Linked DNA regions of Homo sapiens: region 2 is linked to region 1. A link means that fine-mapping ties the variant in region 1 to the expression of a gene that starts in the linked region. Tissue or cell type: ileum. Region 1 holds a variant in brackets; the other region holds the start of a gene. All regions are shown on one strand. Distances are from middle to middle.

Region 1 (5,202 bases):
TCTCAAAAAAAAAGGAAAAAATTGGTACAACAGGAATTTCCCTTTTGCCTTTTGTTTCCCTCAGGTCACTTCAGGAAGATATTTTATGCAGCCATACCAATCTGCACTGTTAAGAAACAACAGTAATTGCTTTGGAGAATTCATCTGGTTAGTGTTCACAGGAAGCAGAATTTGAGTTCTCCAAGAAGCAAGATTGGGTATCCTTGGATATTTGCAGACTTGTATTGATCAGACCTAACTGCAATTACAGATGCACTAGTGACCCCAGGCAGACCCCTTTCTGGGCATAAACTGAGGATGGTTTTCATTTGAATCCTTACCTCAAGCATGCATGCTCTGAGAGACCCTACGAAGTCTATGGCAGCAGATCTGTTACAAGCCAGTCAATCACTAAATCCTCAGTGCAGAAACACCTACCTGCCAGATCATTCACGTTTGTTTTAATAAACGAGAAGTTAAAAGGAAATAACCCAAATGTCCAACACTAGGGTGTTGGTTAAATGCATGTGTGTACCTCAATATTGTATGGTCATGAAAACTACTTTTATTCAATGTGCATAAAATAATCCAAAGCTGGAAAGATATACACCAAATGTCAAAAGTGGTCATCTTTGGATGGTGAGAGTTTAGTTATTTTTGACAATTAAAAAGATTTTTTTTTTAAGACAGAGTTTCACTCTGTCACCCAGGCTGGAGTGCAGTGGCACAATCTCAGCTCACCCCAACCTCTGCCTCCCTGGGTTCAAGCTATTTCTGTGCCTTAGCCTCCCAAGTAGCTGGAATTACAGGCATGTACCACCACACCTGGCTATTTTTTGTATTTGTAGTAGAGACGGGGTTTCTCCACATTGGCCAGGCTAGTCTCAAACTCCTGACCTCCAGTGATCCGCCCACCTCGGCCTCCCAAAGCGCTAGGATTACAGGTGTGAGCCATCACACCCAGCCAAATTGGTTCTTTTTTAAATCAGAGAAAAAGTAATGTGATCTTACAATGTTGTGAATATTTGGGCCCTCTCTGTTAGAGAGGCAAATGTACTCAAGACCCCTCTGTTTCTTCATCCTGCTTCTCCAAATGCCTGGCATCAGAACTTCTGCCAGGAAGCCCAGCATCCTCTATGAGTGAGTATTCTTCTCCATGTTTTATGCTAGACTAATTTTTATTTCTCCTTTCCTTCCCCCTTCACTCTTAGATTTTTTTTGTAGCTATGTACTGAGTTCTTCTTGGTTCATTTTCAACCCTTTTCCAGCTCTCCAAAGCAAGTTCATTTTGACCTAATAACCACTAGCAAAAGAAGACATGATTACAAACACACTGCTATGGTCTGCATGTTTGTGCCCCACTAAAATTCATATGTTGAAATCCTAACCCCCAAAGAGACGGTACTAGGAGGTGGGGCCTTTGAGAAGTGATTAGGTCATGAGAGCAGACCCTTCATGATTAGGATTAGTGCTGTCATCAAGGAAACCTCAGAGAGTTAGCTAGTTCCTTCTACCGTGTGAAGACAGTGAGAAGGTGCCAATCTATGAACAAGGAAGCGGGCCCTCACCAGACACTGAATCTGCCAACTCACTGATCATGGAATTCCCAGACTCCAGAACTGTGAGCAATACATTTATGTGGCTTATAAGCCAACCAGTTTATAGTATTTTGTTACAGCAGCTCAAATGGACTACGGCAGAAAATCAGTACCAAGAGTGGGAGTGCTGCTGTAACAAAATACCCAAAAATATGCAAGTAGTGTGGAAGGGGTAATGGATAGAAGCTGGAAGAGTTTGGAGGTGCATGCTTTAAGCAGTATACATTGCTGTAAATGGATCTTTAAGGGAAATTTTGGCAAGGGCTCAGAAGGAAAGGAGAAGAGCTGCAGAGAAAGCCTCAATATTCTTAAAGAATAGCTGAGCAGTAGTGAACAGAATGTTGGTGGAAATGTGCATGGTAAAGGCCAATCTGATGATTTCTTAGACAAGAGAAACATGGTATTGAAAACTGAATGAAAAGCAATCCTGTTATGAACCAGCAAAGAACTTGGCTGAATTGTGTTCGTATCCTAGTGTTTTGTGGAAGGCAGAATTTGTGAGTAATGAAATTGGATATTTAGCTAAAGCCATTTCTAAGCAAAGTGTTGAAGGTGCAACTTGGCTCCTCTTGACTGTTTATAGTAAAACAGCAGAGGAGAAAAGTGATTTAAAGACAAAATTGTTAATCAAAAGGGAAGCAGAACTTAAAGATTTGGAAAACTCTCAGCCTTTCCATACTATCAAGAATGAGAAAGCCTGTTCAGGAGAGAACATCAAGAATGTGGCCAACCAACCACCTGATAAGGTTAGTCAGCTGTTTAAACAGAAGCCAGGACCTCCTGTCCAAGACAATGGAAGAGTGATCACAAAGAGAATTCAGTCATGAAAACTATTTGTGTTCAATGTGCATAAAATAATGAAAGGCTGGAAAGATATACACCAAATGTCAACAGTGGTAATCTTTGGATGGTGAGATTTTAGTTA[T/C]GTTTTACAATTAAAATTGGTTCTTTTCAGTCAGAGAAAAAGTAATGTAACATTATAATACTGTGAATATTTTGACCCTCTCTGCTGCCACCATCATCACAGGCCAGAGTGCAAAGGCCTGGGGGACAAAGCAATTGCAGATGCAAAGGAGGGGCTGTCACTGCCCAGTCCTGCCTCACATTGTGGGCTCTGCTCCCCACTCCCCGTCACCACACTCCTTGGCTGCCCCAAGGGTGGCTCCTGTGGGCCCCAGTGCAGTGTAGTTGGCACTGCAACCAGAAAAGCTGTGAGGGGGTGTGGCTGCCTCCACCTAGATTTCTAACAATGCCTAGAGAGCCATGGGGCCCAGACAAAGAACTGCACAGAGGCAGGGCCCAGCAGAGCCATGAGGGTGGCACTGTCTCATGACCCCAGACCAGTAGAGCCACCAGCTCAAGATTCTGGCCTGGGTGATCTGCAGGAGGCATAACCCCCTCCCCACCACCATGTGTCCAGAGGCACCCCAGTGTGTCTGAGAGGTGAAACCTCCACCCTAGTGGGCCTGGAGGGCAGAGTAATGAGCCAAACATGATGATTCCTGAGCCTTAAGGTTTTGGACTTCCTCAGGAGCTTTTACTCCTTTCTTCTTTCCAATTTCTACCTTTTGGAATTGGAGTGTCCATCCTATGCCCGTCTCACCATTGGATTTGGGTGTACAGAGCTTGATTTCACAGGCTCACAGCTGAAGGGGAATTTGCATAAGGATGAATCATACCTTGAGTATCACACACATCTGACTTAGATGATATTTAAATGAGACTTTGGATTTCAGACACTTGAGTTGGTGCTGGAACAAGTTAATACTATTGGGGCTATTAGGATGGAATGAGTGTATTTTGCATGTAAGGAGGCCATTAATTTTCAGGGGGCAGGGGCAAAATATTATTAATTGAATGTTTACATCCCTCTAAAAATTCCTATGTTGAAATCCTAACCCCCAAGGTAATGGTACTAGGAGATGGTGCCTTTAGGAAGTAATTAGGTCATGAGGGCATTCTTCATGGTTGGGAATAGCACCCTTATAAAAGAGACGCCAAAGAGTTAGACCCCTTCCACCACAAAAGCACACAGTGACAGGTACCATCCTGTGAACCAGGAAGCAGGCCCTTACCAGACATCAAATCTGGCAGTGTCTTGATCTTGGACTTCCCAGCCTCTAGAACTGTGAGAAATAAATTTCTGATGCTCAGAAGCCATCCAGTTTATGATATTTTGTTATAGCCGTCTGAATGGACTAAGATACATACTATCCATTAGTCTGTAGAGGCTAGAGGAGTTCACACCAAGGTTAAGACATGTAGAGGCATGTAGAGGCATGTAAGACATGTAGAGGCAGCAAAATCACTCTAGACCAATGGACAGGTCTTTCCTGGCACCCAGACTCTTTTCTTTATGACACAGGGTGTCACTCTATTGCCCAGGCTAGAATGCAATGATGTGACCCTACCTCATGGTAGCCTTGGCTCAAGCAATCCTCCTGCCTCAGCCTCCCCTGCAGCTGGGACTACAGGCATGTACCACCACGCCTGGCTGATTTTTTTTTATTTTTTGTAGAGCTGAGTTTCACCGTGTTGCCCAGGCTGGTCTCGAACTCCTGGTCTCAAGTGATCCTCCTACCTCAGCCTCCCAAAGCACTGGGATTACAGGTGTAAATCACTGTGCCCAACCTGCTCAAACTCTTGGAGAGAAGCAAGTCTTCTAGCTGAACGTGATAATGGCCTCAAAAGCAGTGTTGACAGCAGATAATCTTCACACAGACAAATGTCTACAGTTTCTAAATAAGCCAACTGTGCATATGGCCTACAGGCTCTTCAGCATAACCTACCCAAAGCTCAGGTTCCCTGAAGGCCAGGACAGTACCTCGGGCCTCCAAGCAGCATTTGGTATGGAGCCCCATCCCAGGGAGTGGAGAGATAGCAGCTGGACTGGAAGGGAGCCAGGAGGAGGCCAGAACCAACAGCCCCCAAGATAATCAAGAAAATATCGCTGACACCCAATCACCTCTCAGCTCCAGGCAATCACGTTTCAAGGTGAATTCAAAGGCCTCCTTTCCCTCCTCAAACATGTGCATTCTAAAATGACACAAATATCTGTAATTAAGAAAAATCATGAGGTACATTTTGTCATGCATTGGCTTCTTAATAATGACTTACCTACTTTTCACAAGCTAAAACTTCCCTACCAGGTATAATAAGGCATAATTACATGTCACTACAGGACCAAAAGGACTAGACTTTTCTCTGCAACACTCCTTTTCTGGTGCTGACTGCCTCCCTGCTCCAAGCAACAGAAATGTTTATTAATTGCACAAATAAGCCAGGCATGGTGGCTCATGCGTGTAATCCCAGCACTTAGGGAGGCCAAGGCGGGCGGATCACTTGAGGTCAGGAGTTCAAGACTAGCCTGGCCAACAGGGTCAAACCCTGTCTCTACTAAAAATACAAAATTAGCTGGGCGTGGTGGCAGGTGCCTGTAATCCCAGCTACTCGGGAGGCTGAGGCAGGAGAATCGCTTGAACCTGGGAGGTGGAGGTTGCAGTGAGCCAAGATCGTGCCACTGCACTCTAGCCTGGGTGAAGAGTGAGACTCTATCTTAAAAAAAAAAAAAAAAAAAAAATTTACAAATAAACAACACAGCAAAAGAAAAACAATCCAACTTTCA
Region 2 (5,111 bases), 740 kb after region 1:
AAACTCCAAATATGTTTCTTTTCCTTGATTAATCTTACCACATTCTGATTGCTTTTTTCCTTTGGGAGTGATAAGAATAGATTTCAGAAAGAGATGGCTTTTGATCAGGGCCAGGAACACTTGGTAGGAATTGAGTTGGCAGAAATGAAATGGAGATGTGTGTAGGGCATTGGACGAAGGAGAGAGTCTGAGCAGAGGCAATGGTGTGAGCCAGTGATATGTTTGGCAAAAATGCATAGCTGTTGATGAAAGGAGTAAAGTGTCAGTACCTGATTAGGACAGGTGACATGAAAAATGTGAGGAGACTAGCATCAAGGCCATGCCTCTGGCTCCTGGCTACTTCTTTAAAGTTTAAAATTTGTTTTGCTGAGCCCTATAGAGTCACTGAATTAGCTATTACTACAGATGAAGCTCTGTACACTGGAGGAGGAGGACTCAGATATGTAACAACCGGTTTTTTTCTCTTTCTAGCCCAGAGTTTCTTACTATGATCTGGATTCGTGGGGAGGAAGGCTGGGTAGAGCTAGACTCATCATCTGCTTTGGTGTTCTTGGGAGCTTATCTCTTTTCCTGCCAGGTAGATAGTTTTTCCTTTCTTTCCTTCCCTTCACCTCCAGACCTCCCTCCTTCATTTTCTTTCCTTCTCTCTGTCTGTCTGTCTAAAATATAGTTGGGAAGAAAAAGGTATCAGCCATGGGAACCTCTGGTGCACAGGTGTAAGGAACAAAGAGCTTTTCTGCCTTAGAATTAATCAGTTATCTCCTACTCACTGTAGCTCAGAAGTTGATCTACCTTTTGATGTTAAAATGCTAAATCTCACGGAAGTTATAAAATTTTCTCTCTTCCCACCCCTAACAAGAAGGAAAAACAAGTCCTCAACAGACTTATATGCATGTAGTAACTTATTACACAGTTCCTAGGTGTGAAGCAAGTGTCTGACCCTCAGGAAGCTGCTCCCTCTGCAGTGCTCAGGTAAGAACCCATCACCATCGCCCACCTGCTCACCCTCCCTGCTTCCCACCCCAGGACACCACACCTCTCAGGAATTACATGAGATATGGTATAAAAAGTTTTTTTATTTCAAAATGCAAAATGGTGGTCATTGTAATAATTAATAATAATAACATAAAAAGCATTTATCCTTCCTCCCTAGTGCAAAATGGTAGACGCATTTAGATAATTCACACAGTGTTGGAAATGTCATGACAATGCAGTGCTGCACAGCAGCAAAACTCAATCCCAAACTCCTTTGGTGGATGCTTGTGGTAGGTCAGTTCTAGATGTCAGCGGTTTCTCTGAAGTTAAGTCCAAATAAAAAACAGCACGTGCTCCTGCACTCTCCCAGCGGAGTCAGGCTCCTGTGCGCGCGCCCCCTCTGTCTCTCCATTCCTCTCTCGGTCTGTCTCTGTCTACTGCGTCTCCCTCCCACTCCGCTGGTCTCCCACAGTTCCTAGGAGGCGTGCTGCCGGTTGGACAGGGCCCGGCCGCCGAGGACCGTGTCCTGCTGCTTGCCTTTCTCCTGCAGGGCTTGCTTCTGGAGAGCCTGTCGCTCCAGGGCGGCCTGCAGCTCCGCCACGGCTGCCTCCTGGTCCCGCAGACGTCTGGCGGCCGTGAAGGGGCTGCACACAGTCTCCATCAGGCCGAGCACCACGCCGAAGAGGGCCAGCACGCTGCCCAGCACGTACAGCTTCACCATCTTCCCCTTGCGCTTCTGGGCCATCATCTCCTTGGCCAGGGGGATCAGCTCCTGGACCGTTTCCATCTCGGCTCTGGGCTCTCGGAGGCGGGAATGACCTGCAGGAGGAGCAGCAGGAGAGGGGCTTCAGCCACCAAAGAACGGCTCCCACCACCCCGCACCCAGCTAATCTTGGGGAGGGCTCATAGAAAGGCGGACTACCTTAGTGGCACGGCGCGAGCAGGAGGCAGCGCGAGCTGCAGTTGGCAGCGGTCAGCGCGTCCGTTGGTCCGACCGACCTCAGCGTTCTCCTCCTCTCGGCAGCTGCAGCTCTCCCAGTTGGAGACTCCGCCGCTGGCACCGCTTTAGCGTCCGGGGGCCGCTTATATCTTTTCTCTGAGACACGCCTCCTGGGCTCTCCGGCCCAGGCCAGCGCGGTCAGAGCCAGGGGAACTCGGAGGGGGAGGAAGAAGAGGAGGGGAAAAGGAGGGGGTGGAACCCGGCTGGGACCTGGCAGGAGGTGGCCACGCGCTGAGCACGCTCCGACTGTGTGAGCTAGGGGGCCCGGCGCGGGTGCCATCGCAGCGGGGCGCGTGGGAAGGCCAGTGTGCACGCGAAGGTCCCACTCCAGGCGAGCGCAGGGGAGGACCCGGAGCCCAGGGAGGTGTCCGCGGACATCTCTGACATGGCGGCAACCTTCTTACTGGTGTCAGCGGGTGCACAGCTTCCCTTGTCCAGGACAGCCTGACATTATAAATAATGAGGGAATTTGGGGGTTCCATCTAAAGAAGAAAGCTTTCATTTTTATTCGGAAGGGTTGTCACCTTCCCACGTGTGTGGCAATGGATCAGAGAGGAGAAGGCAAGGGGGAAGGATCTGGGTAACAGGACAGAACAGGTTACGCTTGGATAAAGCAATATGTGCTAATATTGTTTCTTTCCTGCCTGGTTGGTTTTATTTAGAGGTACATGCATGTATAACTAGAGTCAGTTGATAGAAAACTATTCATTGATGGTGCTTTTATGCACAGAGGTGTGTGTGTGTGTGTGTGTGTGTGTGTGAGAGAGAGAGAGAGAGAGAGAGAGAGAGAGAAAGAGAGAGAGATTAGTCTCTTTGCCTGCGAGCTGTTTCCTTATGTACTTCCGTGTATCAGGGAAGAGCCTTCAAATTCAAATTGTTCTCACTTCCACTTGAGAAGTGGAGTTGGGAGCTTGGGGGTAGGGGGTCAAGTATGGAAGGGGCTGTTGGTAGAAGTTCATCTGCCATTTTAGAATGGAAGTATTTCATGCTCTCCTCAATAATTCTCTGCCACCCTCCTGGGTTTGGGGGTACAACTTCACTGCTCCAGCTCAACTTCAGCTTTGAAGCAGTTTGTGGGCAGAAGGGCGTGTAGTAGACAGCTTAGGTAAGAATCCAGAGTGTGAGTACTCTTGGACGTGTGAAGATGTAGGATTGATTTTGACCAGGGTTAGCTGTAATCACCTGGGGCTGAGGGAGCGTTCTAGTTTGGCTTTGGTTATGGATATGCTAGAGTTAGCAAACTTGGGGAAAAAGAGAGGCAAATTGGCCAAAGGGTTAGCAAACTTGGGGAAAAGGAGAGGCAAATTGGCCAAAGGCCTTTAAGCAGAGAAAGGGAGGGGGCAGGGGAAAGAAGGGGAAATCAAACTGGCCAGAAAATTGCAAAGGTCAGTGATGCAATCTTGCAACAGCCTTTGCAGTCGGTCGGACTGAGCCCTGAAGGGCGGGTCGGGGGAAAAGGCTGTCTCAGGGATCAAATATTTTAGTTTTTGAATTGTTAACAGTAATCTTTCTTTGGGGGTCTGAAGCAATTTCTCAGATGATTCAGTTTAAAAAGGCAGCAATAACAACTACCCTTTGCCTTGACTATTAATAGTTCAGGCAAGGGCTTGTGTGTGGAGAATGGTCAAGGTTATCTAAATAGCTTATTTGAAATTCTATGTTTTAGAATTTAGTCTGAGTGAAGGTGACCAGGGGCCAAATAGAATTGATTATTCCTGGAGGACTGTGTTTCCTGCTTATTGTTCTTTTAACCTTGTCAGGCAGGAAAATTCTGTAACAAGGGTTCCTGCCAAGTTTAATATCAGTCTTGGCATTTTCTTTGAATCTTCCTTATAGTTTCAGAGCAACCTCTGATAACTGGCAGAAATGATTAGTGAGCTTTCCCAATATCTGTGAGGGTTCCAAACCCATTGACTTCTGGAAGAGCATGTGATGTGTGCCCTGATATAAGGGCTGTCACGTGGTTTCCATTCTGAAGGTGAGTCAGCCTAGCTTGGGACCCAAAATTCTGAAATTGACTGGTCCAGTAAGCATTTCCTGTGTTTCTGTAACTCAGAGACGCAAACCACACGTCTTCCTAGGTCAGAAGGCTGTAATTTACCTGGGGTTCCCCTTTCCTGTGATTTGCTGTGTTAGTGCACATCACCAGCTCAGTTCCTTTTTTTGATAATTTGACTTTGACCTCCAGGTTCCAGCAGCTATATTGGTAAGAGCTGGACAGAGGAGGGGCAGCAAGTGCCATGGACGGAGGTCACTGGTAGACTTGATCTTCCTAGTTTAGGTGGTAGCTGGGGCTGAGCAGGAGATGATGGGAGTAGAAGGCTAAGGAATCCAGTGTTAACTCATGTCTAGGAATTTCTGAGTGCAGCTCCTCTGTCTGGGTGGGAAAAGAGAACCTGGCTCCTAGGGTAGAAGGTGACTAGGTAGGGCTTGGAAACTAAACATATATTTTAGTGGGGCTGATGTCATTTTTAGGGAAGTAAAGCACTGTGTTGTGTCATGCATGCAGGTAAGATACAGGTTATAGCGATGATGGTCAAACCAAGCCATAGGGTGACCAACCATCTTATTTTGCTCAGGGTTGAGGGGTTCTCTGAAATGCAGGACTCCTGCTAAAACTGAGCACTAAAACTGAGATACTTCCAGGCAAACTGAAACACTTCCAGGCAAACTGAAATAGTCATCCTACCCTTGAGTCTATCTCAACATTTAACTCTTGCCACTTCTAGGAAGGTAGGAAGGACTAGTTTAAAATTTTTATATTTTGCTTTCTAAATCCCTTTCTCTCAGACATTAAGACATTCAGAGCCATCTGCAGAGGGTAAAGTCACAAAGGGGTGCATGTGTTTCAAGGGTTAAGTGCAGAGGAGGGATAGAACTGTCCCTACCCCTCTGCCTTGGGGATTGAAGACACAGGGGAAAGAGGTCTTTTGGATGGTTAGTTGTAAATGAGCTTCAATAATAATTGTTATTGTTACAATTATTATAATATAATAATAACAATAATAATTATTATTTTGTTACCGGCTGCTTGCTGCCTACACAAAGTCACTGCCCACCCCTGGGGCTCCAGGCAGCTGAAGGGAGGGAGTCATCATAGGAGATATGACAAAACTATTTGTAGTTTTAAGACTAC

Which allele goes with the higher level. Positions count from the first base shown, and alleles are read on the strand shown. Sizes are in standard deviations (SD) of each study's normalised expression.
As copies of C replace T in region 1, the expression in ileum of the gene that starts at base 2,035 in region 2 goes down (small effect, 0.38 SD a copy in GTEx).

The links. PIP is the estimated chance that this variant, and not a neighbour inherited with it, causes the effect.
Region 2: G0S2 starts here. The variant in region 1 is fine-mapped to the expression of G0S2 in ileum (GTEx, PIP above 0.99).

The regions. Positions count from the first base shown.
Region 1 is chr1:210,410,479-210,415,680 of GRCh38, reverse strand. The region is part of intron 6 of HHAT (hedgehog acyltransferase); the gene reads right to left. Among named protein-coding and RNA genes, the nearest start is that of HHAT, 84 kb to the right of the region's middle. The variant T/C (reference allele first, on the strand shown) is at 2,503.
Region 2 is chr1:209,672,336-209,677,446 of GRCh38, reverse strand. G0S2 (G0/G1 switch 2) reads right to left here and starts at 2,035. Exons shown (of 2, transcript NM_015714.4): 1 at 1,898-2,035; 2 at 1,057-1,794. The coding sequence starts at 1,762. The coding sequence ends at 1,451. All of the region lies in intron 1 of HSD11B1-AS1 (HSD11B1 antisense RNA 1), which reads left to right. RefSeq lists enhancers at 1,075-1,923, 4,204-4,443.